2 separate regions of the Homo sapiens genome follow, and region 2 is linked to region 1. Evidence: fine-mapped expression QTL. A gene starts in region 1. The other region holds a variant in brackets. All regions are shown on one strand. Distances are between the middles of the regions.

Region 1 (12,618 bases):
GAATCAAAAAGCCTACAAAGTCTTATGTACATATTTCAAAGAATTTGACCCACTAGAAGAGGTCAAGGGAGGCTTCCTTTAGAGAATGACATTTAAGCCTAAATCTGAAGGGTCAGTAGGAACCGGCTGGGCAAGGCTGAGGGAAGGAGAGAAAAGATGAGTGCTCCAGAAAAAGGAATCACCAAAAATCCTGTGACAGATGGGAGAACAGAATACCAGGGTGACTGGAGTGCTGGAAGTGGAGGGAAAGGGCTGTACAATGGGATGAGGTTAGAGAACTAGGCAGGAGTCAGCACTAGGCAGGCCTTGAAGATCACATTTGAGATTTTGGTTTTCATATTAAAAGTGGGAAACTATTAGAGGGTTCTATTCAGGGAGATGCCAAGATCAAAATTTTCTTTTTAAAAGATTAGCCTGCTGTAGGGTGCTAATTGAAGGAGACCAAGAGTAGGCCCTGGGAGAAGGGTTAGAGTGGTGGCAGTATAAATTGAAAGATGTGGAAGGATTTAAGACATTGAAAGATGTGGAAGGATCTAAGACATGGAGGTGTTCTCACTATAACTCTGTGATAGGTTAGTGTAGAGGGGCAGAGGAGAGGTAATGGGAGGTAGGATGTCATTTAAGGAGTCCATTTAATGGAATCAGATGATTATAGAGAGGGGATCATTCATTAGGAGAGGGAATACTGAAAGAGAACTGCAGGTTAAAAGGGGCACTGACCACAGTACCAAATTTGGGGAAATGTTAAAAAAGACTTTAAGCTCAATTTAGGTTTTTTACTATTTTATTATGGCACACAGGATAGAGGATGGTACAGTTTTCTTACTTCAACCAAGTAATTCTCAAAGCATCCAGCTATTTCCATTTGGCTAAAGTTACTTTTTGCACATAGCTTGCATCTGTTTGAGACTTACCATGTACATCAACCCAGGTCTAGTAAGCAGAAATGTGAAAAGTTTTGTTTCTGAGGAGACGCCTCATCTTTACAGAAGCCAATACACTGAGAGCCTTCATAGTTCCAATCCATTACCATCATGGCAAGGAAGCACTTTACCTATTTGCATAGCAACATATATTTAACTAGAAATAGGTGGTACAAAGGGATTAAGTAACTTTAAATGGAGACCACTTTGGTTTCAGGTTAAATTAATAACTTATAGAGATCGTCTAAAAAACAAATATTGAATGAAATTAGCTGACAAAGCAATTGTTTCAGAACAAAGGCAGAATAGCAGATAGTAATATCATCTATATTTATTCCACATCAAATGCAAGAGCGTTCTTAACTTTACGACAGAAAGGATACATGGGGCGTGTATTTGATGCAATGTCCAACCAGTCAAGCTATCATTGAAATCCAAATATCTCCCAGTAGAGACATGCAGAGCAATGTCAATGTAACATACAAGCATATTACCTCCCCCCTTAAGTGACTCATAATTTCATTACTTGTGTCTGTAGCTTTTAAAGGTTTAAAAATGTGTAGCATTAAGTGGTATTTACTTGAGGCAACAGAATTACGCTTAACAACACACTAAATCATGAGCTCAGGATTGCAGGCAACATGTTTGCAGTGGAGTGGCAAATAACCTTTGGTAGTTTTAATCCCTTCTCCTGAAATTATATATAGATAAAAAATTATTCCTTCTTATTGTACCATGTTCTCAGGTTTTAACCTCCTCCCATGATATTTAGACTATATTTTAAAATGCAGTTATAGGGATGAATGTATGGGATTCATATTCTATCCATATTGCATTGTGACATATCAGTTTGAAATGACCTATTTATCATGGTTCCATAGTGTAATGGTTAGCACTCTAGACTCTGAAATGACCTGTTTACCATAAAGAGTGTATCTGTCAAGTAATTTCAGAATTGCTCCCTAGAAAGCCATCCCAAAACCTAACACAACACGTGTTATGAGGCAAAGTCTATTGTTATTTATAGACTTTCTCATTTACTCATGTTTATTATCAGTAAAATTTTTGTGGGGAGAGATTTCACAAGTAATCATGACATAACTGTATCCCTCAGAATTTCCAATTGAAGGAAGAAAAAAAAGTATTGGTAATTGTTAAAATTTCAACTTTTTAAAAAATTGGAGGTCAATAGTCCACTGGTATATACTTTATATTGGTGCCATCTTTAAGGTATTTTAATTAAGTAACAACCACAGCAAAAAATACATCATTCGGTATAACTTTATTTACTATTTATTGCACATAACTCAGGGTCTTTAATTGCTAACCACCGAAGGTTCAAAGGACTATTTTTCCATGAAGTTTAACATTAACATTAGTGAATTCATTTACTCATGTGGTGTTTTTTATTGTAAACATCTGAATGATTCACATTGCCGTAGATCCTGAACTCATAAGCGTGGTCCATGCACAGGCTGGCAGCAAGCCAGAAAGCCACTCTGCAAGCAAACAGATACTCTGCATAAAGAGGAAATTCATAGCACAACATTGAATGTCCAACCTAAGTCATCTCAGAATTATACATATATTGACTTTTTAATTCACATAGAATCTGGAACTCAACTGGTTGGTTGGTTGGTGATGGGGTTGACCTGATTTCGGGAGAATTATTCCTGAAATAATTAAGGAAATGGGGGTTCAATCTTTCTTCTTAGCTGCTTGTTCCTCCCCAGCACCTTCAACTTTCTTCTCCTCCTCTTCAGCTTCTTTGGTTTCCTCTCCTTCTTCACCTTCACCTCCTTCTTCTTCTTCTTTTGCTTCTTCAGACTCTTCCTTGGCAGCTTTAACATAAAAAGAAAATGTACAAAATGCAAATCCAGGGTAAGTCCAGTCAAAACATGTCTGCAAAGGTTTTATTTGCAAACACAACTGTCAGAATGCTACCAAAACCTCCCAGCTCCACTCTCTCCAAAAGCACATGTAACAGACAAAGCTTGCCATGAATAATTTGCCACTGAACACATATTTAAATCGAATGAGATCACTTCTAGGTATGGGAAGCTCTGCTCCTCTCCAAGACTTAACCTCAATATTTCTTTCATTATGTGTCTGGTATCTATTTTTGTTCTTTAGGACACCAACCTGCTGTGTTAAATGATTATATTAAAAAATGAAAATTTTGACCAATCACCTCATTCAGAGTAGATGCCTTAGGAAAGTTTTGCTAAACAAACAGAAAATTTATTTATGATTCTAATGTCATATATGAATAAATGAGCAAGGCTTCATTTGTCTTATCCACCTCCTAACAAATCTCCACACCCAGTTTACACTTGAAGTTGCAGGGGTTTTTTCTTATCATACCTTCTTCCTCTTCAGCTGCCTCCTCTTCCTCGGCCTCTTCCTTGTCCTTCTCCTCCTCCTCGGCTTCTCCTTCAGAGGGGGGCTCATCCTTGGCTTCCTCAGCCTTGGCAGCCTCAATGGTTTCCTCCACTTCGATCTGCTCCTCTTGGACATGGCTGGTGTAGTAGGACGGGAAGGAGCGGGTGGACATCAGATAGGAGCTGGTCTGTAAACCGCCGTAGGCAGATCGGCCAAAGACCTGGGAGCTCTGGGAGTAGCCACTGGTTATGCTTCCCACGCTGGTGAAACTGAGTCGGGTCTCCTCGCCTTCCAAGAGTTTCCTGGGGATGCAGATGCAAGGTGAGGTTAAAAAACACCTGTGTTTCACAACTTGCTCTGAGTACCCTAAACACAAAGGCAAGCAGGAGCAGGGCTGGGATTTATCAATACTTAATGCCTGGGGATCTTTTGATGGAGACCAGAAAAAATATAAATAAATCATCCTATTAGATTTAAAGTGTAATGACAAGATAAAAACAGGACTCCTAATTACAGGGTTAAATTCTTATATATCTAAATACCCTCTTCTTGGAAGAAGCCAAAAACTAACACTTCATTATTTCAAAAGGACTATTATTGAAGGTTTCTGATCCAACATAACTTTAAATGGGATCTGATTTTCTTCCTAAGGTTTAATGGCTGCTGTCTTTGCCCCTCTATTTTCACCTGTAAGCTGCAATCTCAATATCCAAAGCCATCTTCACGTTGAGGAGGTCTTGGTATTCTTTTAGGTATCGTGCCATTTCACTCTTTGTGGTCCTCAATTCATTTTCTAATTTGTTGATCGTGTCCTGTTTGAAGACAAAAATAAAACAAAAAAAAAATCCGAGCATAAATCCCTTCTATTATTTTACTGTAGTGTAGTTGCAAAGGCCTAGTTTCGATTAAAATCAAGGTGCACACCTTTGATAAAATCTCTCCTAGAATAACTTCCTGTATCTTTTGAAAAACCTTCATGCCTAAAATACCCAAGTTCATGAAGCCTGAGATGAAAAAAAAGATGGACGAAAATTCTGTTCTTCTGTTTCTTTACTTAATACTGTTTAATGATCATCATAAAATGCATGCAAACAGACTAAGTTGATAGAAAAACTGTGTCTCTCATTCACTGATTAACTCTTCTTTAGCTGGGTTACATGCCAGGAAACTAATGCCTTTCTTTATGAGAAGAAAATAGCCAGATGTAAACAAAAAAAAGAAAAAAATTATTTTCTATGAAATATTTCCTATGTATCTAAATTATTTTTTCTACTCCCCAGAAGAAGAAAAAAATTTCTACTCCCCAGAAGATGGAGATGTTTTAAAATGGAGATCTTTTTAAAATTGTATTTTTTCTACTCCCCAGAAGATGGAGATGTTTAAACAGAAATGTTGTAGAAGATTTTACACATAAAGAAAAAAAGAAAAAAAAAAGGTAAAAGGAAATGGTTTACTATGAACATCACTAGTTAACTACCTAAAACAATGTTGACTATTTTCCTGTCTACCTACTAAATAAAGGAAGGGAGTGGTTGGTAAAACTAGTCATAAAGCATGCTGGTCACAGTAATCCTTCAGAATTAATTGAGAGTTGTTCACTCTACTATTTATTAACTAGATGATCCGATAGTTGCTGCAAAGTAACTTGTGGTTAATGCAGGTCAGTAGAGAGCTGATCTCACTGCAGGCCGGAGGCAACGCCCAATTCCCACGTCTTCCCCTCCCCCACCCAACAAGGGCTGGGCAGCTTTAATGCGGAACGCCGGTGCAGCAGCACGGAGCACACTCCCAGACTACAGTGGCGCCCGCACTCACGCCCTTCAAGTGCCCCACCCCTCCCACACAGTGGCCAAGGAGCCAAGCCCTATCCCTAAGAGCTGCGTGCAGCCGCACCACCCCTGGTCTCCACTTTCTGGGCGCACCAACTCCCCCCCTTGCTCGAGTCCCCCGCCCCCCTGTGTTTCTGGCCGTGCCGCACCTGCATAGCGCTGATGTCGGCGTTCTGCTTGTCCTCCAGCTCCTGCAGCTGCTTCTCCAGCGCTTCATTCATGCCCCGGCATGCTTCGATTTCCAGGGTCTTGGCCTTGAGCAGACGACGGCTCTCGGACACCTCGTCCTTGGCGGCGCGCACGGCGTCGGTGTTCTTGGCGGCGCTCTCGGTCAGCACGGTGAAGCGGCTCTTGAACCATTCCTCAGCGTTCTGCATGTTCTTGGCGGCCAGCTTCTCGTACTGCGCGCGGATGTCCTTGAGCGCGGCGGAAAGGTCGGGCTTGGTCACGTCCATCTCCACGGAGATCTGCGCGTACTGGATCTGCGCCTGCAGTTCGGCGATCTCCTCTTCGTGCACTTTCTTCAGAAAAGAGATTTCGTCCATCAAGCTGTCGATGCGCTTCTCGAGCTCGGCGCGAGCGAGCGCCGCCTCGTCGGCGCCTTTGCGCGCTTCCATCAGCCGGCCCTCGGCGTCCTCGCGGCTCAGCACCTCCTCTTCATAGCGCGCCTGCAGGTTGCGCAGGGTCTCCTCCAGCCCTTCGCGCTCGCCCTGGAGCGCCTGCTTCTCGTTGGTGGCATCTTCCGCCGCCAGGCGCAGGTCGCGGATCTCCTGCTCGTACAGCGCCCGGAAGCGGGATGGCTCGGAGTGCTTCTGGCGCAGCACCAGCAGCTCGGCTTCCAGGACCTTGTTCTGCTGCTCCAGCTCGTGCACGCGCTCGATGAAGCTGGCGAAGCGGTCATTGAGGTCCTGGAGCTGCGCCTTCTCCTGCGTGCGGATGGACTTGAGGTCGTTGCTGATGGCGGCTACCTGGCTCAGGTCGAGGTTCTCCAGACTGGGCATCAACGATCCAGAGCTGGAGGAGTAGCTGCGGCGCACGGACAGCGAGGAAGACACCGGCGCCGAGTAGCTGGAGTAAGCTGAGCGTGCGGTGCTGTAGCCGCTGCGCACGCTGGAGATGTGCACCCGGGGCGTCTCCACGTAGCGCCGCTTGTAGGAGGTCGAGTAGTACGGCTCGTAGCTGAAGGAACTCATGGTGGCGGCCGGTGGCTCCCCGGCCCGCGGCGGCGGTGGGAGCCCGGAGAGAGAGGACAGGGGAGAGAGGGAAGGGGGAGGATGGATGGCTGTGTGCGGCTCGGCGCCGTTCTGCCACCCCTATTTATACGCCGGGAGGCTCCTGACGCAGCCTGCGATCGATCACGGCACGCCGGCCAGTGGGGGCAGCGCGCTGCTGCAGCCAAGGCGAGGATTCTGCGCAAAAGGGAAGGCGGGGTCGAGCTACGGCCCGAGGAGCTGCGGCGGTCGTCCTTTCCACTTTGCTCAGAGGGCCCTGATTTTCTCTGAGATCCCATGCCCCCTCACTCATTTCCCTTCTGTACTCACTCACGCAGCCCCTCCCGTCCTGCATTGCCCAGACCCCGTGACACTTGGATCCTTAAGTTGCCCCCAAAACAGGTTCTTGCTCCCTTTTGACACCCTAGTTTTCTGTATCCCGTCACCTCGCAGACACCCTGTCCCCCCAACTCGCCCTTTTCCCACCAGGAACCTCCTTAATTTTTTCCCTTGGTGTTTACGGTGATGGTGCGGCTAGGGAATTTTAGATACAAATAAATAGGCTAGGTTATGTGTATGCAGTATGTATGGAGAAGAGTTTTAATTTCTTTCTAGCTTTCTGGCACTTTCTGCAATTCATCTTCCTTTCTCCTGATTATTTTTCTTTTTCTTTAATGAGCTGCTTAACACATAGGGAATGTGCGCGCGAGTGCGCGCGCGCGCGCGCACACACACACACACACACACACACACTCGTGAAACTGCGGCACTACTGCAGGTATTGGTTTAGCATTTTTAAACCTTTACAGCAGTTAATCCGCCTGTTAGTGTTTCTAGATTTTCACATTTCTTAACTGAGAATGAAGCCGCAGATGGCTTTAACGTGTTGCAGTGTGTGGGTGGTGGAGGGCAGAGAAAGAGTTGGAAACACAGAGACTGACTTGCTGAGGCAGCCGCGCGCTCCGCAGCCGGGAGCTTCAAGCTGCCTGGATCCTCACCAAGCTAAATTCCTGCTTGCTACCACCAACCGCAGCACATTTAAAGTCCGCTTTCCTCTTTTTACACATGTGTAGCACACGACCTGATGATTTCGATAAGCCTTGCAGTTGGCTGATTTTCAGGGAAGCCGCTGCGGCCAGCCCTGAGCGCTGGGTGTGGTCTCTGGGGAGGAGAACTCGGCACCCAGGCTTCTTCAGGAACGGATAGAAAATAGCCATAGCCGCGTGACTCTTCCCCCGATACAATGTAATAACCCGAAAACAGATGCAGTCAGGAATGCATGGATTTCCTTCAGGAAGCACCCAGATGCTTGAAACTGGCGCACGCGGTAGCGCACGTGGATACAACCCTACGGTTTGCAGGGCATTTTCACACGCATGATGTTAGGAGTCCCCCAGGTTTCATGGAGGGATTGCAGAGATTTACACGAAACACCTAAGATTTATCTGAGCAAGCATTTAGTTTTTGTTTTATTTGTATATCGCAGCATTTGATGTGCAACTTATGTTTTTTTTAAGAGGCAAACTGAGGGGGAATATGGTAACTGTTTTCAAATAGAGAAGCCGGAATGGCTTCCCCTGTGATACTTGGAGGGTGAAGTATTTGCAGTGGTGCAGTTGCTTCTGGAGACATTTCACTCCTCTCCCGAGGAAAGGATGGGGTGAGGCTTATCCTCAGAGGCCCTTTCTCATCCCCCCCCCCAAAAAAAATACCTGTGATTGTGATAGCCCACCGTCCTCATGATAGACTGCAGCAGATAACTTTCCTCGGGTTTCTAAACAATGTCTGTTGTCGCAAATAATGCAAATTCACAAATATTGAAATTAGTAGTTTAAATCTATCAAGACTAAGTGATCTCAGAGGACCATCCATGCCCAAATATTCTAGATTTCAAGCCTAAGGTCATGAGGCTGTCCTGAATATTGTTTGTCCCTGGCAGGTTTGGTAGGGTACTTACTCTGTTGACTTTTCATAGCCTAGCTATCCTTGGTCTTTTCACTCATGAAATTCAAGGGTGGAATAGGCTTCTCTGGAGGCGGAGGGTGGAACAAGGACCCAGATAAGCCATAGAGTTGTCTCCTCCCAATTACCCATATGTAGATGAAGCATGGCAGAATGGATTATTTTGTTAACCTGCTCCCTGCAAACCTCATTGTTCCACACTCAGTGTGTGTGAGTCTGCATAAAACACACTCTCAGGTATTTATGAATTCGTTTCCTTTGTGCCAGCTGTCTTTCCCCGGAGTTTCAGGTCACCCTCAGATCTTAAGTCCATCAGCGTTTTTTTTCTTTCTTTCTTTCTTTTTTTTTTTTTTTTTTTTTCTTTTTTTCCGCGGCTCCTCCCTGAAGCCTTTGACTGCAGAGGAGGCTGCCCAGAAAGGAGAGGGGCGGCGGGTGCTGCAGAGGGATGCTTCAGAGAGAAGAAACCATTGGGGCACCTGCTGCCTGCCGTCCCCTGGGTAGCTGGAAAAAAGAGGAACACAGGAGCAAAGGGTGAGAATGGGACCCTTTCCTGTGCTGAACCCGGCCCACAGAGTGGGGGAAGGGGCAGATCCACAGCGTTTAGGCTTATCGATCTCTGGTCTTTTTAAATATCTCCTGGCCTGGCCACCTCATACTCCACGACAGCCTTGCTTTGCAGGACTCCCGAATCCAGCCGGGGTCTGAGTTTTGGTTACTCTATCTTCAGCCTTCCTCTGCCAGGTGCCTGCCTCTTCTTTAATATTCTGTCCAGTCATCCTCCTTTTTGAATCCTCTTTCCAGCATTTTGCTCTAAAAGCACACATGGCATTGCTTTGTGTGGCAAAGCAAAGTGAACAACTTTAGAAAACCTATTTAGGTAGAATATATATATTGACTTTTTCTTTCCCTCACCATAAATGTTTCTGATTAGTGCTGTTTGTAGTAGAGTCGCAGTCTCTTTAGAAGGAGGCTTTTGAGTCTTGTCACACCCTTATGCATTTATTCCCCTTTAAACATATTCTCTGCAAACCTGAACTTGGTTGAGGGCTATCAACAAAACATGCTCCTGGGAGATTAAAAATATGGAAGTATGTTGATGACCCCTTTAACAGAATTCCTACCACTCTGGTTATCCCTAATACTTCTGTAACCCTCCAAAGAACTGTCCCAGGTCATTTAGTTAAAAAGCAAATATCTTCACAGTAATAATAATAAAAAAAACATAAGGCATAACTCTTAGAACCACTGAAAACATTCTACTTCTCCAGTGCCAGCAGAGCCTGAAAGTTTCAGATAGATGGGACCTGGCGACTGATGACTTTTCATTTTATTATTCTAAAGCCATCTGAGAAAGCAGGAAGTTCTGTATTGGCATGTGTTTTTGAAAAGGTCAGCTTTAGGGTAGGGCCCATGAAAAGCCTCAGTCCAAGAGTCAAAAAAGTCAAGTTCTCCTACCACCAATAAGCTCTGGCAGAAGTCCTAGGACAGAACAGCGGATGAGTCGGCCGGGCGCAGTGGCTCATGCCTGTAATCCCAGCACTTGGGGAGGTCGAGGCGGGTAGATCACAAGGTCAGGAGTTCGAGACCAGCCTGGCCAATATGGTGAAAACCCGTCTCTACTAAAAATACAAAAAAATTAGCCAGGTGTGGTGGCACATGCCTTCAATCCCAGCTACTCAGGAGACTGAGGCAGGAGAACTGCTTGAATCTGGGAGGCGGGGTTGCAGTGAGCTGAGATCGCGCCACTGCACTCCAGCCTGGGTGACAGAGTGAGACTGCATCTCAAAAAAAAAAAAAGAAGAAAGAAAAGAAAAAGAACAGCCGATCAGCAGATGAGTCTCCATCCATCTCACCACCAGGTAGATACATCAGTGTCACCAAAGCTGGCATCGGTACGTGGATGCAAGGAAACCCAGTAAATAAATGCATGCAAGATACCTGCTATATGACAGGCATTTGCTATCTTGTATTGAATAATGACAAGATCACCTGGAGATGGTCACTATTATTCAGAGCAAACAGCTGAGGCCCAGAGAAGTAAGTAATTTGCCAACTCACACAGCTCCTTCAAACCTAAGCTCCACCTGCTTCCAGACTGAGGGTTCTACTCATTCCACAAACTGCAGCCATTGGCATTTACTGCTTCCTTATGTCTCTGTGGAATTTGATAAGCGAAGTCTGCCATCTGCAGAGTTTAGCGTGCATATAATAAACCTATCCTGCTTTGGGGACACCAATTTGAATTCTTCTGCACCATGAGGAAACCATTAACGAGCATGCTCCATTTGGGCAGCTAGTGGCAGCAAAAAACTACATGATTGTTGTAGGTTTCTCAAATATCCCAATGTAAAATAAAATGGGTGTGGCCAGTGGAACATGACACATAACTGGCACTGTAACATTTTACATGCAACTCTAAACATCAATTTACAAAACACCCTTTCAGGAATTAATAAGCTAAAATGCAAATTAGCTGACCTAACTCTTTAAAATGGCCACATCACGACTTCCACTTTTTTTTTTTTTCTGATTACAGTATCTTCATTTTCCACCCTTGTAAATGGGTTTTCTTTGGAAACGTGCCCTTAAAAGTTGCTCTAAGGAATAAAAGAAAAAAATGCTGGCACTGAACACCTCATTATTGGAGTTTATAATGCTTTCTGCAAGTCTTTAACTTTCTCCAAAGCAGCATGAATAAAGTCAACAGAAATGTATAGCTTGTTGAAATCACAAAGATCTTTCATCTCTGTTTCTTGTAGCCAGTTTATTTCTTTGTATATTTTGCTCACGACAGGAATCATACGTGAGTCTCCTTCATCTCTTGGGAAATATGTTTGTTTGAAAGAAAACTTTTCCCATTTTATTATCAAGTATGTCTATTTTACAGCACCATATTTTGAAGCGATGCATCATAAAGTGTGCTATGTGGCTATATAAAATTTAGATTGCAGCAGGAACGAGAATGTCATTTGAATAGATTAAGGATGGAAAGCACATTTATATTCAGAACACGTGCAGTATGAGAAATGATGGGAACTCACTGCTGTCCAAGCAGAAATGATGGTGATAGGTTCAAACTCCTAAATGCTCGCTCCAGAAAACTAGCGAAGGTAATGTGTTTTCTTCCCAGAGGCCTGCTCTGCTATGCCTTGTCCTTAATCATAGTCACCAGACTCAGAGGTAAGAGGGTTACACAGGGGACAGCCATTTCAGGCAGGTCACAGGGATATTGGTTAGAGCCGACAGTACTAACCCTGTTTGTTCAGTTGTGCTTTCCCGACTGCAAGGAAATACATGCTGCTTCTACACTTCGGGCACCAACCAGCCACAAAAAAATACATATATATTCCATGCGGCACCTGAATTTCTTTGCTGACCTTTACAGTGGTTTAATAAATCAATGGGAGGAATGTAAGCTTTAATGTTTGCAAAGGTAGAGGATAAGCATTTCTGTCTGCAAGAGACAAAGCCCCGAGTCTGGCTCTTTCACAGCCATGCTGGATGCTGTCCAGGGCAGGAGTTCAGTTTCTCGCCAGTACTTCACTGCTGCATGAATGCAGCAAAGGCTGCAGAATTGCATATGGGCGGATCCCTGGATTCCTACAGTAAAGCAGGCAGGCTTCTGAAGCCAGGATATGTAACGCCGGTGTATGGTAAGTTGAACGTGTAAAAGACTCGCCGGATAAGAAAAGCAAAACTTGATTGTGTCTAAATGGCTTATTGATTAATTATATAACTCAAATGTTTATTCATCCATTGAGTCGCCAAATGTTAACTGAACACTTACAAGGTACAGGATTCTGTACAAGTGCCATGGGAGATGCAGGGAGTTTTAGCCCAGTCCCAGTCTTTGAAGGCCTTGAAAAATATCTGAATACAATAAAAAGAAACCAATTACTACTACGTACAACATGGATACATTTCAAAAACAATATACTGATACTGAATGAAAGAAGGCTTAAAGTATACATGTTGTATAATTACGTTTATATAAAATTCCAGGACAGGCAAACTAATGTATGGTGGAAAAAATATCAGAACAGTGGTTTCCTCAGGGAGTGTGGAGTAGGAAATGACTGGGAGGAGGCACAAGGGAACTTTCCGGGGTGATGGTATTTTTATGTGTCTTGAGAAGTTTGAATTGTGCAGATGTAACCATTTGTCAAGATGCATAGAATGTACCAGGATTTGTGCATTTTATTAAATGTAAATTTTACATCAAAAGAAGAAAACTAAACCGAATGTGTATATACACATTTATAGATTACATATAATTATCAAAATAAATATAACAGTTTAAAAATTTATAAA
Region 2 (12,618 bases), 52 kb after region 1:
GTTCCCGAGGCTGCGCACCAGTTTTTGATGTCGATTGAACAGGGCTCCAGATTAATCACTTGTCCTCACAGCCCTTTGGAATAAGATTCACTCTCTAGCTGTTTAAAGCTTTTCTTTCGGTTCTAGGAAACAGCTTATTTTTCCGCTTTTCCTATCAGACTTTGACACTGGACTGTAAAGTTTTCCCATGGGTTTTTGCATATCCCTTCGACAGGCTGTATTATTTACAGAATTGGGTAGGGGAAGGCTACTCTGTCAGCTGTGGTTGGTTGCCTTATCTTTGTTCTTGAGAGAATAGCTTGGACTTTTCCACCACACATGAAGATTTTATTTGAAAGCAGAGATACTTGCCCCTGCCAGCTACCATCAGATAAAATTAAATAGAAGGCCATACTTGTATCTCTGGGGTGCATGCTTAGTACTGCAATCATGTAAGTAATGGACATTTGACCATCTTTCCCTTTTAACTCTCACAACTCTGGCAAAACAAGAATAATTTTCTTCATTTTTACAGTGTTAAGATCTGGATTTGAACCCAATCCTATTTTCAAGGCTCTTCTACTATCTCATAAAAGAGTATGGGCATGGAGGCTGAAGAAGCCAAGATTGTTTGGATTATTTTGAATTCCAAGGTTAGGAAATCAAAATTTTTTAGGGTAGATGCAGTTGCAGTTAGAAAGGAGAATAGCACAGAATTTGAAAGCACAGACAGAAATCTTACAGTCTGGGTCAGACCCTGACTCTGCAGCTTACCATCTACTAGAAATTACTTAACCTTCCAAACTTTATTGTTTTATTCTAAAAATGGGGCATAGCAATAACACCCACCTCACAGTTTCACTGAGGGGCTTAAATTAGATGCATCTGCAATGCTTAGCACAGGGGTGGACAGAGGTGCTTAATCAATGATAGATGATGTTCTTATAAATACTAAGATCAAAGAAGAGGAAAATTTGGCTTCTTAAACCAACAACACTTCTATTTCCATTCTTGGCTTCTTCTCCTGTATCCAGACAGGCTGATTTCAGTTTAGGAAAAAGCATACCATGTACTATTTCCCATCCTAACATTTTTATGCAAGTAAAATCAGTTTAAACAAAGAACAGACTTAAAAGAGTAAGTCACAAAACTTGTAGCCTTATAAACTGTGCATGTCGGGGCTTATCCTTTTTGGTGAGGTCATTTGATGTTTGGGAAAGAGTTCTGAAGTCACACAGACCTACCCAGCTTTAGGACTTCACCATGGACTGCTGCGAGCTAGTATAAATTATTTAATCTCTCAAAGCCTCGGGGTTTTTATTTATTCAAGACAAAGATTAATAATATCATCTTTCCAAAGTCACAGTAAGAATTAAGCCATATTATGTATGTAAAAGTGCTTAGCAGAATTCTTGGCACATCACTGTTCCTGAATAAATGAAACTTTATTTTCCTTCTTTCCTTGGTCATGATGAGAATTGACTGGGTTATCTATTGATTATTTTGTGCATGAGCCTGTGATCAATCATTCTTCTTCCACAGATAGAAATGTGCACGCATATTAAGGTTAACAAGATTTGTGGTTGTGAAGTATAATTCTAAAGCCTCACAAGCATGAAGGGTGTGTGGACGTTTTCCTGAGTCATCCTAGGGAACAAAAGGGAGTGGGCAGAGCTAGTTACCAGAGTTGGAAAGGGATGCATCAGTCATTACATTCAGGGGCTGTTAGTTGGTTCCTTTTGCAAATGGGCTGTGAACTGCAGATGTCCCTGGGAGAGAAAATAGAAAATTACTAGCAAATTCCTAAGAGAACCTGGCCTCTTTAAAGAAGAGAAGACACATTGAGCTGGGAGTTGGAGGAGAAATGAGAAATTGAGCCACAGACTCTGAAAGATATCATCTGCCAAGAGGGAGATGAGGCTTTAAAAAGAACTTTAAGGATTTGTACATCTAGTCATGATGCAGTAACTGGTACTGGACTAGTTTTTTAGCTTTAAACAACTAGAAAGCCAGGAGAAAATATTTGAGGCTGGCAGTGGACAACAGACAGCCAGAGATGGTTATTTCTGAGAGAGAAAAACTTACAAGGTGAACCCCCAAATCATCCAGCTCTCTGCTGGAAGAGATTTTTCTAACTGTAGCACAGAGAGCTGAGGTCCAAGCAGGGCTCAAGAGTTGGGCCGAACAGAGAGAGAACAGAGTTTAGCAAAGCTGAAATAGTTGAATCTGCAGGGTGGAGCATCAACAAGGAGGTAGCTTTATAGAGAATACTACCCTAATCCCATATGAGGACCCCTTGTGAGGTCATGACTGCGGACTGGGCTGTAGATGAGCAGGAGACCACCTGGGACTCACAGGTTAGCAAATATTTGTGGGGGAAAAGATACTAGCAATGCTGGGGGAAGAGTTGTGCCCAAAGACTTTGGAATTCTGACCTGGAAAGAATAGAGATTTCAAAAACACTTTATTAACACTCCTGAAATCCAGCTAAGACACCAGAACTGCTTTTGTTTAGCAATAAGGGCTAACCTCTACAGCGGGGATGAGCAAACCTTTTTGTAAAGGGCAATATGTTCAATAATTTTCACTGTGCAGACTATATGGTCTGTACTGCAGCTACTCAACTCTGCTGTTGTAACAGAAAATCAGTCATAAAAAAATACTCAAATTAATAGCATGTCTGTGTTCCAAGACTCATTTCCAATATTTTCAAAAATAGAGAGTAGGCAGGATTGGTCTGAGGGTCAAAACATGCTCGTTCTAGAGTAAGACCTATTCCAGAATTGCAGTAACACAGCCTAAAACGGAGCCTTGACAAATAATTGGGGGGTGGGGAGTACAGAATTTGAAGGCCAAGTCCCATCAAGGTAGAGGAACTTGGGAAATGACTTGATTAAGGTGATCAGCCAGTAATTGAACTGCTTGCTAAACAATAATTAGCACTCTTCAGAGGAAGATAACAGAATTTAGAATTTCTTCAACATACTATTCAAAATCTAGTATTCAATTAAAAAAATCACTAGACAAACAAGAAAGTAAGAAAATATGCTCTGTAGTCAAGAAAGATAGCAGTCAATAATAACCAACCTGATGGCTCAGAGATTGAACTGAGCAGAAAAATATTTTATATCAGCTTTGATAAATATATCAAAAAATTGAATAAAAATGTGTTCAAAGAATGAAAGAAGCTGGTACAGTTGTGCATGCCAGTGCATCCTAGCTAGCCAAGAGGCTGAGACAGAAAGATCTTTTGAGCCCAGGAGTTCAAGACCAGCCTGGGAAACATAGTGAGACCCCATTACTTAAAATTAAAAAAAAAAATTTAATGTAAGAAAAAGCAAGGTCTGAAAATGAAGAAATAGGAAATCTTAGCAGAGAAATGAAAACTGTAATGAAAATAACTATCTCAAAATTCTGGAACTGAAAAGTACATTAACTAAAATGAAAAATCTAACAGCTTATTAGAGATGGCAAGAAAAAAGAATCAGTGAACTTGAAGATGGATTAGCTGAAACTATTCAACCTGAAGAAACAAGAGAAAAGAGACTGAAAAAAAATAAATGCAAACTCAAGGAACCGTGGAACAACACAAATAGTCTAACATACATAATTATAATTAGAAACTTCAGAAAGAAAAGAGAGTCAGATTAGGCAATTTTGAAAAAAAATCCCAAAACTGATTATATTACAGATCCAAGAAGTTTGACAAATACAAAACAGGATAAACATTTTTTAAACTACTCGTAGGCATATTACAGCCAAATTGCGGAAAAATCGAAGATGAAAAAAAAAGTCTTATAGCAGCCAGAGAAGACACACTGCATACGTCGAACCAAGGATAACAATGATCACTGATTTCTTATGAGAAAGTGTCCGGAAGACAACAGAAAGACATCTTTTCAAGTTGGACCCAGTGGCATGTGCCTGGAGTCCCAGCTAGTTGGGAGGCTGAGGCAAGAGGGTCACTTGAGCCTAGAAGGTTGAGGCTGCAGTGAGCTATGATCAAGCCACTGCACTTCAGCCAGGGCAGCAGAGTAAGACACTTTGTCAAAAACAAAAGAAGGAAGGAAGGGAGGGAGGGAGGGAGGGCAGGAGGGAAGGAGGGAGGAAAAGAAAGAAGAAAGAAAGACATCTTTTCAATGCTGAAAAAAAAAGTAAAGTCATAATTATGTGTCCAATGAAAAGATCCTTGGGGGAAAAAAGAGATCAATAAAGACATGTTCTGATAGATGAAATCTGAGACAATTTGTTACTAGCAGACCTGCACTATAAGAAATGGTGAAGATCCAAGGACTAAGGTAAAATGGTACCAGATGGAAGATCTATAGGAGGAACAAAGAAGCTGGAAATGGTAAATAAATGGACAAATATAAAAGAGAACCCAGGTCCAGACATTCTTAGAGAAGCCTCCCTGAAGGTAATTGTTCTTATGCCCTGGCTGGTACAACTGCTGCAGATGGGACGCTAGCCTGTACTGAGTACTTCCTGCGTGATAGGTAGCAGGCTAGACACTATCTATCTAAAAGCTGATTTAATGTACACATCAACACTGTGGTAGAAATTACTATTTCCTACAGCTATGGTCCATAGTTGAAGAATTTGGAAGCAGGTCCTGGTAGGATATTGCTTGAGTCCTTTGGTCCCAGTCCAAGTCAGTTTCATATCTACTCAAGACAGAGAAATTTTAGCACAATCTGATGGCTTCTAGAGTCATCTCAGTATAACCTAGCAAAGGATCTAGAAACTGTGATGGACTATTCATTCCTTAAGCACTTACTATGTGCTAGACATTGCAGTATACACGATTTTATTTTAATGTAGACTTTGTGCACATTGTTTCTTGTTTTTTTGTTTTGTTTTGTTTTTGATTTTGTTTTTGTTTTTGAGACAGAATCTTGCTCTGTTGCCCAGGCTGGAGTGTAGGCTCACTGCAACCTCTGCCGCCCGGGTTCAAGTGATTCTCCTGCCTCAGCCTCCTTCCTGAGTAGCTGGGATCACAGGTGCCCAACACCATGCCTGGCTAATTTTTGTATTTTTAGTAGAGACGGGGTTTCACCATGTTGGCCAGACTGGTCTCGAATTCCTGACCTCGTGATCCATCCAACTTGGCCTCCCAAAGTGCTGGGATTACAGGCATGAGCCACCGCGCCTGGCCCTGGTTTCATTTTTTAATCTCTACAACAAATTTAAACTGGTACAATTATTCCCATTTGACACATGAGGAAACTGAGGTTTTCAGAGGTTAGGTCATATTCTCCTGGTCACACAGCTGGTAATGTTAAAAATCATGTCAGTCTGATACCAAAGCTCGTAACCACTAAATTGTAACATGATCCTAGGATGAGGGGAAAAGAAGAAAAAGTGAAAGTTTACTGCTAATGGATGACAAGGAGGCAAGTAACTGAAAGAATCATCAGACTTTAAATTCATTCTCAGGAAAGCTTGAGGGAGATGACCCCTGATGCGTGTGTGGTAGAAGCTCCAAATTTTACAGAAATGTAGGTTAAAGCCACTGGGGCCTGTGTGAAGGAGAAAAGAGGGATCACACCGAAACTGCTCCAATTAGGAGTGTCTCTACAAGGGCTTAAACTGGTAGTGTCCTTGGTTAAATCTCTGATTATTTTTCATATCCAGTGTTTAAATCATGAATGGAGCCCTCAGGGGTGGCACTGCAGTTAGCAACGCAGGCTTTCCAGGGAAATGTCTTTACTGATTGTTTCCCTGGAAACGGTTAGGCTTCCATTCTGCTGAGTACCCCCCAGCACTCTCCAAGTTCCCTCTGTGTTGGAAGTCTCTGTTTAGAGTGGGAGGAGGAAACATGTATCAGCTGCAACTTTCTAAAATGTTGCACTTTGTTGCAATAAATGCCACTATTTCTGAAGCTGTCACAAATGTTGCAACACTGTCACAATAAATAATCACTATTTCTGAAGCTGTTGCAAAATGTTGTGATATTGTTGCAATAAATATGTTGTTTATGAAACTGTTGAA[T/C]TTATTAGAAATGTACTTTGGAGGCCGGGCGTGGTGACTCATGCCTGTAATCCCAGCACTTTGGAAGGCCAAGGCGGGCGGATCACGAGGTCAGGAGATCAAGACCAGCCTGGCTAACACGGTGAAACCCCGTCTCTACTAAAAATACAAAAAATTAGCCGGGCATGGTGGCGGGCGCCTGCAGTCCCAGCTACTTGGGAGGCTGAGGCAGGAGGATCCCTTGAACCCGGGAGGCGGAGGTTGCAGTGAGCTGAGATCGCACCACTGCACTCCAGCCTGGGTGACAGAACGAGACTGCTTCTCAAAAAAAAAGAAAAAGAAAAAAGAAAAGGAAAGAAATGTACACTGGAAAAGGGAAAGTGTGTGTTGGGTATTAGGCGTAGCAGAATTCCTTCTTTCCTCCCCAGTGCTATGGAGATATAAAGTTCAAGAACACAACATGCGTGCTTTCGAGGAGCGTATCATTATTCAGGAAGTCAAGACACCAGTGAATGAAAAGAAAACTCACTTTCTGCAATAGCGCAAAAGAGCAGTGAAGATGGTGCTCAGATGAACTGTAAGTGTTCAGATGAGGGAAACCATGGAAGACATCATGGAGGAGGTGAGACTTGTACAGGAGGTGAGAGTGAGCTGTTGGGAAGATATTCAGAATTGAGGGGCAAAGAGACGGGTAGTTTTCATGGGTGGACTTCAGGAGATTTGTGATCCATCTGAATTTACACACTAACATCCATGTATTTGTATATTTTTCTGGAAAGAGCAACCGATTGCATAAAGTTCTCAAGGAGTCTTTAGCAACCTAAGAAGTCAGAAAAAAAAAAAAAAAAAGACAGTACCGTAGAGGCCAGAAAATTATCAACAGCTTTATCATGGGTCTTACAGAAATACACCATCACCTTGGGTTACCTTTTTTTTTTTCTAATTACCTATAAGTAATTTAAAAGTGGATAATTTCAACGTTATGGGGAGGGTCTCAAGGTCAGCAGGGTGGGGCACACTGGGGATAGAGAGGTCTTTTGGCACTGCTATACACTGAGTAGGTGACTGACTGCCTCTTTGGGAGCCCACTGTCTCATAAATTCTTGAATCAGGGAACACTTGGGGTCTGTCATAGGGAACCAGGTGCCCTGATTTGTGAAACGTCAGCTATAGTAATTTCCTGGTATGCATATATAAATAATATTTGACCTCTGTGTGGAAATAAAAAGGTTTTCACCTTGCACTCCTAGACTGTGATGCTCCACAGTCATTGGTCTGCCTATGAAACTTTTTCTTTTTCTCCTTTTTTTTTTTTTTTTCGAGATGGAGTCTCGCTCTGTCACCCAGGCTGGAGCCTCCCGAGTAGCTGGGATTACAGGTGCCTGCCACCACTCCTGGCTAATTTTTCTTGTATTTTTAGTAGAGATGGGGTTTCACCAAGTTGGCCAGACTGGTCTTGAATGCCTGACCTCGTGATCTGCCAGCCTCGGTCTCCCAAAGTGCTGGGATTACAGGTGTGAGCCACCGCACCAGGCCACTTTTTTTGTTTTTCAAAATTTTTGTAGAGACAGGCTCTCACTATGTTGCCGAGGCTGGTTTCAAACTCTTGGCCTCAAGTGATCCTTCCTCCTGGGCTTCCCAAAGTGCTAAGGTTACAAGTGTAGCCACCACAGTGGGCCTAGGAAGCTAATTTAATACAAACCCCATCTCCCTCTCTGCTCACAGCAACCTCATCTTCCATTCCAATTCCAGATTTCTTCTGTTCCTGGTAGAATTGTGAGATGCTGCATCTGCGTTCCAGCTTTCAAGAATATAATCTATCATCTGAAAACTTAAAGTCTTTTTTTAAAAAAATTAGATCAAAGCAGAGAGAAAATGATCTTCAAGTTTCTTTACCAAACTTGGTATGTTCTTTTGGACTGAAAACTGATGGAGTTGGAAGTGACTTTTGTAGTGAAAATGAGGCTGGAGTAATTAATATTGTTCCAGTGTTCTGGTTATGCGCAGGAGTGAATCATGATACCCAAATTACAATGACTCATCTCTTCTGAGAGAATAAATTGTGATTCTATGAAAGTTTTGCTTCACTAGGAATTTTTTGAAGGGTTCTGTTTGTTCTAGTTTAGAAACCTACACAGGCAATATGGGCTTTGCAAAGGTATAAAATTTTCTTAAATAAAACTAAACAAAGATCTATTTTGATTTTCAGCGTTGGATTTTTTTTTTTTCTTGCCTTTCCTTTGCTTCTGGGAGAAAGTATCTTCAGACAGGAAGCTTTGAGCTACTCATAAATTCTCCCTAACACTGCAGAAACATATTTCACTATGAAATGGTGGAGATGACAGTAAGAGCCTCTTGTTTGAGGGGCAAAGCTGAGACATCCTGAATGCTATGGAAGTTTAATCTTCCATGCTGACGCAATCACGGGAATATTGTGCTCCTGGGGTTTTCTTTATTGCCAGCTACTGTCTAATGCCAGGACAAAAGGAATAATTTGATTACAGCCGAGGAAAGCACAGTTTGTTCCTGTTACTTTTAAGTTTCTTTCTGTTTTTCATTTGTTTTGAAATGAGAGATTGAGAACTCAGAATGTATTTGGTACAAAATGAAAGATAACTACTGCCTAGAGCTATATGGCAAAGACTGCAATATTTAGGGTGGCTCGAATAAAAGGAGCTCTCTGCTTCTTATCTAGTTAACAAAATGATAAAGGGATCCTGTCTGGCATATGCGATTAATTCTCCCTTAGGAAAGGGACATAAATTATTCTTAATTGCCGAGTTATGGGTCTGTTATAATTAAAGTTTGTTACTGGGGGTAAAATGACACCAAGGGAGCAAAGACTGGACAATCTGCCCACATGGGAATGTGTCTTCACCTGAACTTGGACCCATTTGTGAATCAGCAAAACTTTAGCTTTCTTCCTCCATCCTGTGCTCCTTCTGTTATGAAACCTCATTGGCTCCATTCTTCCCAAAAGCTTATTTCTGTCTGTGAACTTTCCTACCCATGTTGAGGTCGTATTCTGTCAGTGGAGAGGAGGACTGAGTCTCTTCTCTTTTGGATGCAACTTGAAACCTGAAAATCTGAAAGGGGAGAACATTCTCCAAATCTACAAATAGCAGATTGGCTTAATTTTGAAGCCTTCTTGTCCTCAAAAGAAAAAGGGGTGGGGTCAGGGTAGAAAGAGTTATACAGTCATTTTAGGTTTTGCACTTGGGATCAATGAAGGAGTTTGTTTGCCTTAGGATGGGAAAAACTTTTAGAGCCCCCTGGAGTTCAGTGAGCCAGATAGGTGATCAAGTCTCAGGATGAAGCCAATGCTACAGGTACTGATGATAACATCAAACAGGTCTCAGGGTCTCCAAAGTTTAGTAGGGACCTTGAGACACCATGGAGACCACTCCTATACTTTCCCAACATTTGTATATTCTCAGACAGCTAAGAACCCATCAGCTTTATGAAGCCTTCCTGAAAGAGAGGTTCTGCAGAAATCTTATCTCCCCAACTAGCATGTTAGTACTTCATGGAAAGAAACTGTGTATTGGATTGATTTTTAATTTTTTAGTTTTTAACTTTTGTGGTACATAATAGGTATATATATTTGTGAGATACATGAGATGTTTTGATACAGGCATGCAATATGTAATAATCCCATAAAGGAAAATGGGGTATCCATGCCCTCAGGCATTTATCCTTTGTGTTACAATCTAATTTTACTCTTTTAGTTAGTTAAAAATGTACAATTAAATTATCTTTACTTGGACATTGTTATATCAACATTGTGTAGTAAAGTTCTGTGCACAGTTTAGATGTTTAATGCATATTTAAGGCCTAACTGAACATGTTCCTTGAACCTTTTTCTGGCACCTGCCCTCCTTAACCCACTAAGTTTGAGAAGAAATTGGGAGATGAAAGATGGTCCAACTACCTTCCCGTCCCTCAGTTTATATCACGCTATGGTAAACTCGTGGCATCAGAAGTATTTATCCTCAACCCTCCAGCCTCCCCTTCCTAGTATCCCCTCTTAACACCAAATAACCAATGAATAGAGGAGTAGGTACAGACTAGAGAGCCTGGGCTCAGCTGCAGCCCAACTTAGCAGTGTTTCAGTTGAAAAGAACTTCTTCTCAGGCAAGAAATAACTAAGATCAGAGCAGAACTGAAGGAAATAGAGACACAAAAATCCCTTCAAAAAACTAATGAATCCAGGAGCTGGTTTTTTGAAAAGATCAACAAAATTGATAGACTGCTAGCAAGACTAATAAAGAAGAAAATAGAGAATAATCAAATAGACTCAATAAAAAGTGATAAAGGGGATATCACCACCGATCCCACAGAAATACAAACTACCATCAGAGAATACTATAAACATCTCTGCGCAAATAAACTAGAAAATCTAGAAGAAATGGATAAATTCCTCGACACATACACCCTCCCAAGACTAAACCAGGAAGAAGTTCAATCTCTGAATAGACAAATAACAGGCTCTGAAATTGAGGCAATAATCAATAGCTTACCAACCAAAAAAGTCCAGGACCAGATGGATTCACAGCCGAATTCTACCAGAGGTACAAGGAGGAGCTGGTACCATTCCTTCTGAAACTATTCCCATCAATAGAAAAAGAGGGAACCCTCCCTAACTCATTTTATGAGGCCAGAATCATCCTGATACCAAAGCCGGGCAGAGACACAACCATAAAAGAGAATTTTAGACCAATATCCTTGATGAACATTGATGCAAAAATCCTCAATAAAATACTGGCAAACTGAATCCAGCAGCACATCAAAAAGCTTATCCACCATGATCAAGTGGGCTTCATCCCTGGGATGCAAGACTGGTTCAACATATGCAAATCAATAAATGTAATCCAGCATATAAACAGAACCAAAGACAAAAACCACATGATTATCTCAATAGATGCAGAAAAGGCCTTTGACAAAATTCAACAACTTTCATGCTAAAAACTCTCAATAAATTAGGTGTTGATGGGACATATCTCAAAATAATAAGAGCTATCTATGACAAACCCACAGCCAATATCATACTGAATGGGCAAAAACTGGAAGCATTCCCTTTGAAAACTGGCACAAGACAGGGATGCCCTCTCTCACCACTCCTATTCAACGTAGTGTTGGAAGTTCTGGCCAGGGCAATCAGAGAGGAGAAGGAAATAAAGGGTATTCAATTAGGAAAAGAGGAAGTCAAATTGTCCCTGTTTACAGATGACATGATTGTATATCTAGAAAACCCCAGCGTCTCAGCCCAAAATCTCCTTAAGCTGATAAGCAACTTCAGCAAAGTCTCAGGATACAAAATCAATGTACAAAAACCACAAGCATTCTTATACACCAATAACAGACAAACACAGCCAAATCATGAGTGAACTCCCATTCACAATTGCTTCAAAGAGAATAAAATACCTAGGAATCCAACTTACAAGGGATGTGAAGGACCTCTTCAAGGAGAACTACAAACAACTGCTCAATGAAATAAAAGAGGGTACAAACAAATGGAAGAACATTCCATGCTCATGGGTAGGAAGAATCAATATCGTGAAAATGGCCATACTGCCCAAGGTAATTTATAGATTCAATGCCATCCCCATCAAACTACCAATAACTTTCTTCACAGAATTGGAAAAAACTACTTTAAAGTTCATATGGAACCAAAAAAGAGCCCACATCACCAAGTCAATCCTAAACCAGAAGAACAAAGCTGGAGGCATCACGCTACCTGACTTCAAACTATACTACAAGGCTACAGTAACAAAAACAGCATGGTACTGGTACCAAAACAGAGATATAGACCAATGGAACAGAACAGAGCCCTCAGAAATAATGCCGCATATCTACAACTATCTGATCTTTGACAAACCTGACAAAAACAAGAAATGGGGAAAGGATTCCCTATTTAATAAATGGTGCTGGGAAAACTGGCTAGCCATATGGAGAAAGCTGAAACTGGATCCCTTCCTTACACCTTATACAAAAATTAATTCAAGATGGATTAAAGACTTAAATGTTATACCTAAAACCATAAAAACCCTAGAAGAAAACCTAGGCAATACCATTCAGGACATAGGCATGGGCAAGGACTTCATGTCTAAAACACCAAAAGCAATGGCAACAAAAGCCAAAATTGACAAATGGGATCTGATTAAACTAAAGAGCTTCTGCACAGCAAAAGAAAATACCATCAGAGTGAACAGGCAACCTACAGAATGGGAGAAAATTTTTGCAACCTACTCATCTGACAAAGGGCTAATATCCAGAATCTACAATGAACACAAACAAATTTACAAGAAAAAAACAAACAACCCCATCAAAAAGTGGGCAAAGGATATGAACAGACACTTCTCAAAAGAAGACATTTATGCAGCCAAAAAACATATGAAAAAATGCTCATCATCACTGGCCATCAGAGAAATGCAAATCAAACCCACAATGAGATACCATCTCACACCAGTTAGAATGGCAATCATTAAAAAGTCAGGAAACAACAGGTGCTGGAGAGGATGTGGAGAAATAGGAACACTTTTACACTGTTAGTGGGACTGTAAACTAGTTCAACCATTGTGGAAATCAGTGTGGCGATTCCTCAGGGATCTAGAACTAGAAATACCATTTGACCCAGCAGCCATCCCATTACTGGTTATATACCCAAAG

Alleles and levels. Positions count from the first base shown, and alleles are read on the strand shown. Sizes are in standard deviations (SD) of each study's normalised expression.
For the expression in fibroblasts of the gene that starts at base 6,424 in region 1, allele T in region 2 goes with a lower level than allele C (small effect, 0.22 SD a copy in GTEx).

The links.
Region 2: its variant is fine-mapped to the expression of NEFL in fibroblasts (GTEx, PIP above 0.99).

What each region holds. Positions count from the first base shown.
Region 1 is chr8:24,950,189-24,962,806 of GRCh38, forward strand. It overlaps NEFL (neurofilament light chain), which reads right to left and starts at 6,424. Exons shown (of 4, transcript NM_006158.5): 1 at 5,284-6,424; 2 at 3,993-4,117; 3 at 3,288-3,607; 4 at 767-2,764. The coding sequence starts at 6,327. The coding sequence ends at 2,622. It overlaps MIR6841 (microRNA 6841), which reads right to left and starts at 3,679; the gene lies at 3,608-3,679. RefSeq lists an enhancer at 3,975-5,174.
Region 2 is chr8:25,002,017-25,014,634 of GRCh38, forward strand. It overlaps LOC105379330 (a long non-coding RNA gene), which reads left to right. Exons shown (of 3, transcript XR_949591.2): 2 at 6,378-6,571; 3 at 7,702-8,025. Among named protein-coding and RNA genes, the nearest start is that of NEFL, 52 kb to the left of the region's middle. The variant T/C (reference allele first, on the strand shown) is at 5,971.